Linked DNA regions of Homo sapiens. The protein of the gene in region 1 interacts with the protein of each later gene in a biochemical or structural test. Each region holds a gene or a part of one and is shown in the gene's direction. Other genes may lie near its edges.

Region 1 (3,652 bases):
TGGAGGTGTGTGGTGCTCCCGCATGGCCCTGCACAGCGTTCCTGAGACGGCCTCAGCAGTTTAAGCCTCTTTAAAGCCCAGAAAGCCTGTCCCCTTCCACACAACAGCCTGCCCTGGCTATCACTGGAGCAGACAGAGGGGCAGAACCATTCAGAGCCAGGACAGGAAGGCCTCGGCCACACCTTTGGGCCAGTGAATAACGATCATCAATTCATGTGCTTGACAGTTTCCCACATCAGATATGGAAATTTTCATCTGGATTAACGTGGTCATATGACACAGCCATGACCTACCCTTGCGTCCTGCTCCACCGACCAAGAAATAGGCACCAGCCTATGGGCACGCAGAGACTCTGGGATAAGGCTTACGACACCCGATACCTCACTAAGTTGTTGTGTGATCACTGTTTAAGGAACTTTGCTGTGAACGTGTTGTTGTTTCCAAAGTAATGGCTCCATCAGCTGTTTGCATTACATTGAAATAAGCTTTTGACCACATCCAAGGTAACATTGGATCACATTGAATAATTATCACATGATGCCTATCGGACTCCGAAGAAGAGCTTAGCGATTTCCTCCTGTTAGCATTTAGTGACCTTAAGACTCAAAGAAAAATGGACATCAGGGTTAGGTTCTCTGCTGTTCATGGCTTCCTCCCCTTTGGATTTCCTCTCCTAATCATGGCAAGGGATCTTTTCCAGGGTGCTGGTTTGGCCAAGCAAGCTGGGATGCCTCTTGCTGAGGGCTGCATTCCTGCCTCTGCTGGGGAATCCATGGAGGGAGCTGTTCTTCGTCTTTGTATTTACCTGCCACCAAAGCACATCTTGATTTTGAATTTAGGGATTGTTTTCTTCCTGTCCTTATGCTGACAGGTATGCATATGCATTGTGAATTTACCTACAGAAATAGAGCACTGCTGGGTAGAATGTTAATTTTGTTCTTATAAGGACTTGTGTATGTTTTTTTAATTTGCCAGCACTTGAGGTTTTAATTAATTTTTAGAAAACATACTCTCTTGCTTTCCCATCTCATCTAGTAAGCTGTTTTGCAACATAGCAGACTATATTCTATATTGAAGTAGGCAACTAAAAAATAATACTTTTTAAAAAAGTAAGGATTCACTTTACATTGACTACATTTCAGTTCATTCCAATAAAAGTTTTTTTGAGGTGGGTTTTTTTGTTTTGTTTTTTTTTTTTAAGTTATGATTGAATCACTTTGCCTTTAAGGTGGTGTGGAAGTAATTTAATTATATTCAGAACTCGGGCAGGAAACATTTGCAAGTCTAATATTTGTTGGATTCCTAAAGAAACAGAATGCTCCAGATCAGTTTCCTGTATTTTTGTCTATCTAATCTAAGAGTCACAGGTACTGTTTCCTGCATTTAACAGTGTCAGACATGTAGTGCCAAACCCAGGAATCTTGCTGGCGTTAGGTTTTTGATTTCAAAATTAAGGAACAGATTCTATGGCTTACATTTGTATAAGAAGTTTAGAATATCTTTATTTTTCTTACATTTTCTAATATGTAATCATTGTGCTGGTTCTTGTCTCCTTGAATGAATGCAGGGCAATAAATCTGTTTCAGATGTTACAAACTTGAAAACCTGTAGATAATCCTCTAGTGTCTTCAGTAATCCCTTTGTTCTGCTATTGAAATTACATCAATCTTCCAGGCCAAAACATATATATTAACTCGGTATTAGGAAAACTTGAACAAAGGCGGAGTTGAGAGTACAAATGAATCACTGACTAAGTAAACTCTGCCATCACTGTCCTTTCCAGATTCTTTATCATCTCATAGGATGTATTTTAGTGATAAATGAGCTTTGAAATGTGAACCCTCATTTTTGACAGAGAGGGCAGCATTGCATATACAAAAACAGGAGATTTGAGGCCAAACAGACCTGAGTTGGAAACCCAGTCCCATCACTGACTAGCCATGAACCTCAGTTTTCTCATTTATAAAATGGGCCTAACACCATCGAGTGTTGTAGCTGGTGTGTGTAAAGCAAGCATGAAAGGCACATTTTAGGCATTAGAAATGCTTGCTTCCTCTCTCCTGCCCATTAATCCAGGGTCTTCCTTTGAGAGGAGCAGCTCACAGGGACATGGGTGCTGGATGAGATGAACCAGAGTGCGCATAATCTCAAACTTTGGGGTGTTTATGTAGCCATAGGACTTACCTCACCCCTAACTGGATGCTTGTCTTGTTCCCTCGCAGGTCCTCGAGAGGTTGCAGCAAAGAGGATTTGAAATCGTGGGCTCCTGTGGGGGAGGAGTAGACTCGTCCCAGTTCAGCGAATACGTCCTTCGGCGGGAACTGAGGCGGACGCCCCGTGTACCCTCCGTCATCCGGATAAAGCAAGAGCCTCTGGACTAAATGGACATATTTCTTATGCAAAAAGGAAAACACACACAACCAATAACTCAAACAAAAAAGGGACATTTATGTGCAGTTGGGACAGCAAACCAAGTCCTGGACGTAAAATCGAATAAAAGACACATTTATATCCAATAGAGACCACACCTGTATTCATATGGGAACAATTGGAATAGTGATATCCTCAAGGTGTAAAAAATATATAAATATATATATATATGTCAAAAGGTAGGAAATGCAAAAAAGAAAAAAAAAAAAGGTGACAGCCGCAGTTGGTGCTGTGATGGCCGTGAAGTGTCCTGGGCCTTCCGAGGCCTCTGACAAATAAACAAGCCATGAGTGGTGAGGACACAGTCTCCTTACAGTTTCCATTGCCAACAACAGCCATCCATATTTCTTTTTTCCTTTGTCTTTCTTTTTCCTTTTTTTTTAAAAAAACAAAACAAACAAAACACCTTGAATCAAGTTTGTTTGTATATGGAGGTTCCACGTCTTTCTTTAGGCAGGGACCAGGCAGGACTTCAGAAAAACCCTCATGAGCACATTGCAAAGATGTTAGACATGAAATTTTAAATGTAGTTTGTACAGAAGTCACACTTTTTTGTCCACCTCACAGATGTGAACTTTACTTTGTTTTAAAACTGATCAGTTTTGCCAAGGGGCCAGAATTATTCCTTGTTAGAATTGCTCCAGTTCAAGTCTGCTGCTTTCCTACAATTTTTCAAATTTTATAATGTATTAAATACAATAAACTCTGTTTAAAAAATAAGGTCTGTGTGAAACACACATGTGGGGGTGAGGCTGGATTAAAGTGAAATTTTTTCTTTTTGAAATTGTCCGTGTTGAGCATCAAAAAGAGGCATGAAAGCCGGGGTCAGTTTTGAAGTCAAAACCTACTAAAGGCTAAGGATGTCATCACCTGTTCCAGACAGTTGTCTTCCGACCCAGCAAATGTTATTTCCTGTGCTTTGTTATTCTGCATTGGTCAGCAAGGTAAATCTTCCTTCTTACGGACTTTTCGGTTACACCTATTTCAGTTATCTGGCTGCAGAGCAAGTCACACCAAAATTTAATGGCTTAAAACATTTTGTTCTGGCCTGTGATACTGGCCTTCGCTGGGCTGCATCTGCTCCATGTCTGCTCCACTGCTCCAATCCAGGGGTCTGATTGGCGTGGAATGTCCTAGATGGCTCACCCAGATGGCTGCAAATACTTGGCTGTTGGCCTCTATGTGGCTTGGGCCCCTCTCAACATGGTAAGTGGATTCCAAG
Region 2 (3,652 bases), on another chromosome or scaffold:
TTGAGGAGATATATTACAATTGAATTTAAGTTCTGGCTTTGTAAATTATTTTTTAAAATGTTTAAAACCATATATTTGAGGAGGAATCCTATGAATTCTCTTTGTTGATGATGTCAGAGATTGATAGTAATATAACTGTTTAGAAAATCAGCAATTGTTCAGTGCCAGAAACTCAACTACAGTACCATTACATTAAAAATCATAACAGTCCATAGAGAACCCACTATTCATACTCCAAAAGAATTATAAGCCAAGAAAATGGTAGTGGTGGCTTAAGGTATAGCGTGGAGTTCGTCTGGGTTTGGGGGTTGAGTTCTGTAGCAGGGAGGCAGTTTCTGGAGAACTGTTATTGTTTGTGATCCGCTCCATTTTATGGAAACAAGCTCTGCGGAGAGGGCTTTGATGCTCTAATTGGCGCATGCGTTCTTCCGGAGCTGGAGCTAATGGCAGGAAGCCCTGCAGTAAAAACCAACTGGTTCAGGAAATTAAAACCAAAGATTCGAAAATCAACAACACAGACAGACTCAGTGGAGTGACCCTCAAATCCTCTTGGTTAATCGGTTTGGATGAACAGATAATTTATGTGATCAAGTTAAAATGTAACCCCTCAGTTGTTCCCTTGCAGAAAAGCTCAAAGAGTAATTATGAATATCATTTATGAATGTGTTGATAGGTGTGAAGTTGGAATACAAGAAGCATTTTAAAAGAGAATTTGGAGAAGTGTCATTTAGGGTGGGGGATGGGACTGGAGGTTGGTGGATGAGATTTTCATTTTCAAGTCTTCTTGGCCCTCTAGGAGAAGTGGTCATTTTTCCTGATAAATGCATCCACCAGATCCTACAGAGAAGGAAATAAAATGCCTGAAATGAGAAAACAAGTAGTTTGTGTTTCCTGCAACATCTGGGGTGAAGGGAATTAGGGAGTTGGGAGTGGGGAGGAAGTTAGGATCCCCACTCTTCATTCTCTCGCACTGGCTCCCTCCTCTCCCCTCTTGCCAGGAGAAGCTGTCCACCTAGCCAGGGACTTTGGGTACGTGTGCGAAACCGAATTTCCTGCCAAAGCAGTAGCTGAATTTCTCAACCGACAACATTCCGATCCCAATGAGCAAGTGACAAGAAAAAACATGCTCCTGGCTACAAAGTAAGGCATTTACCTCTATGGGGTCTCTGTGTCTCGTTGTCAAGAGAAAGAGAAACAAAAATCGTTTTTGCTCTTCCTTCTCCCTTGTTTTCCTTTTGTGTTAATCAGCTTTGTTGCAGTTATAACACCATCTTATATATAGTCTATGTTAAGGAAGAAATACAGGTGGGATTCTTGGGCGCTCCCATCTTTTTCCTCTCATCTGTCCCATTTACTCATTTTTTTTTTTTTTTAATGAGTGTGTATGGGAGTGGGTTGTAGGAGGGGTTTGACTGAAGTTAAGGGTGGATTTGTGACTATGTTGTTTCAGAAAGACCAGAATCAAATCCTCAAAGGGGTAACAGGCTTACCTATATCAGTTTTTGTATCCTATCAATATGTTCTCCAAGGGCAAAGATTAAACAGTGGCCTGCAAAATGTGCAAGCCAGAAGCTGTCCTAGTTTCAACCCTAATCTGTTATTCCATTTCTTACCTTCCTTTCACAACCCCTTCTCGAAAGTGACACACACACACACACACACAGACAGAGAGAGAGAGAGAGAGAGAGAGACCCACACCCCACATAAGTTTTAGCCCACAGGCGAGAAGTCAAATAGATTTCAAAATGGCCCAAGTTATATTCCCATCGGTGCCTGGGCTGAATAGGCTTCTCCAGGTGATGTGTGAAAAGAAAATGACTGTTTTGATGTGTTTTCTGGAAATTAAAAGGCTTGTTTGGAAGCCCTTAATTATCAAAGTTGATGTCACAGGAGGGCATGGAAGCAGAGGGCAGAAGCTGAGGCCTTGGGTGGGACCCTGTTTCTGGCCTGGGGACATCAGCTGGCCTTGGAGAAGGGAGCCAGCCCAGGCTCCTCATTCATCCCCCTCCCCAGCCCCCCAGGCCAGGCTGCTGCTGCCCCTGGAAGGCCCCAGCTAGCCCTTGCTTCCCAGATTCAGAGACAGAGCTTCCTGAGTGCAGGCCTCATCTACCTCTGCGAAATTTCAACTTTCTCTTTCCCCAGGCTTCGTAAGCACACCCATCTCCACAATTTCCCTGCAGTATTTTTATTTTGAGCTATGTGGGGAAAGAGGAGGAATGGGAAATCGAAATGTCTGTTTCTTCTTCCCAAACACTACTTTGAATTATCTCCAAGTAACAGGGCTTGTGTGGGCCCGTTTTGTTTTTTTGTTATTCTTGTTTTTTAAAGGCAAAATAATCCCAAGTAAAGTTTTGTCTCTCTGTCCACATTGACCTGAATTTGATTTGAAGGTGAACGAGTGTGGACTTCATTCTACAAACTGCTGCTGAGGTCTCTCTAGAGGAGCAGGGAAGAGGGTCTTTATGACATTTTGAATAGGAAGGCTGATGGCTGCAGCATAATGTTCGCAAGATGCTACTGTTTCTGACTTCCGGTCTGCGTGACTCCTTTCTTTCTCTTCCAATGTGTGAAATGGTTTCCTATGTCTAGGATGTTTTGTGTGAGGGAGAAAGGTGGGAATAAAAGTTTACCATATCTGAGAGGAAAGAGAGAGAGAGTCATTTGTGAAGGTAGGAAGTAAAGAGAGATGGTTTAGTGGTCACTGAAAGGTGGCTGGATCTCCCAACATGTGGCCACACTGTCTGTCTCTGGGGTCTTGGGTCATGTCAGGTACCGGCTGGATCCCGGCAGAGGTAGCTGCAGGGAGGGAGGTTTTCTCTTTGCTGCTAGTGCTGCCCATAGTGGAGCCTTATGTCTCTCTCTCTGCTCCACTTGTGCTGCAGACAGATATGCAAAGAGTTCACCGACCTGCTGGCTCAGGACCGATCTCCCCTGGGGAACTCACGGCCCAACCCCATCCTGGAGCCCGGCATCCAGAGCTGCTTGACCCACTTCAACCTCATCTCCCACGGCTTCGGCAGCCCCGCGGTGTGTGCCGCGGTCACGGCCCTGCAGAACTATCTCACCGAGGCCCTCAAGGCCATGGACAAAATGTACCTCAGCAACAACCCCAACAGCCACACGGACAACAACGCCAAAAGCAGTGACAAAGAGGAGAAGCACAGAAAGTGAGGCTCTCCTCCCGCCCCGCCCCTCCCACGCCTCACCAGCCCCCCGCGCGCCCACCCTCCGGCGGGTGACAGCTCCGGGATCAGCAACCCTTCCTGCTGCTGCTACTGCTGCTGCTGCTGCCGCCGCCGCCGCCGCCGCTGCCCTTGGGTCCCCCCGAGTCTCCGGGACTGCCCTCTCGACTGTCAGTGGGGCAGCCTCTCCGACTCTGCACCCGCCTCGACCTCCCCACCCGCTCCCACACCCCTGTGCCCTCATGTGGAGCCTAAGAGAACAGAACAGGCCGTGAAGCCAGCAGAGAAAAGTTCTGCCAAGTTTGTGAACCCTTTTTTTTTTAAACAAAACAACAAATCAACAACAGCAACAACAACAACAAAAATTAAAAACTTTTTTCTAAAAAAAAAGTGAAAATAAAAAAAATTATATGCGCTTCATGGGACTGAGTCACCACCTTCCCTTACATACTTCAGTTCAGATTGTAGCC

What was found.
Region 2: the proteins of KCTD1 (region 1) and TFAP2A form a complex in vitro, tested with the Homo sapiens proteins (one study listed by BioGRID).

Annotation. Positions count from the first base shown.
Region 1 is NC_000018.10:26,454,472-26,458,123, reverse strand, and holds the end of KCTD1 (BTB/POZ domain-containing protein KCTD1), read left to right. Parts: intron 1-2,222; coding exon 2,223-2,381; 3' UTR 2,382-3,214; downstream 3,215-3,652. UniProt on the Homo sapiens protein: May repress the transcriptional activity of AP-2 family members, including TFAP2A, TFAP2B and TFAP2C to various extent.
Region 2 is NC_000006.12:10,397,936-10,401,587, reverse strand, and holds part of TFAP2A (transcription factor AP-2-alpha), read left to right. Parts: intron 1-998; coding exon 999-1,140; intron 1,141-2,882; coding exon 2,883-3,171; 3' UTR 3,172-3,652.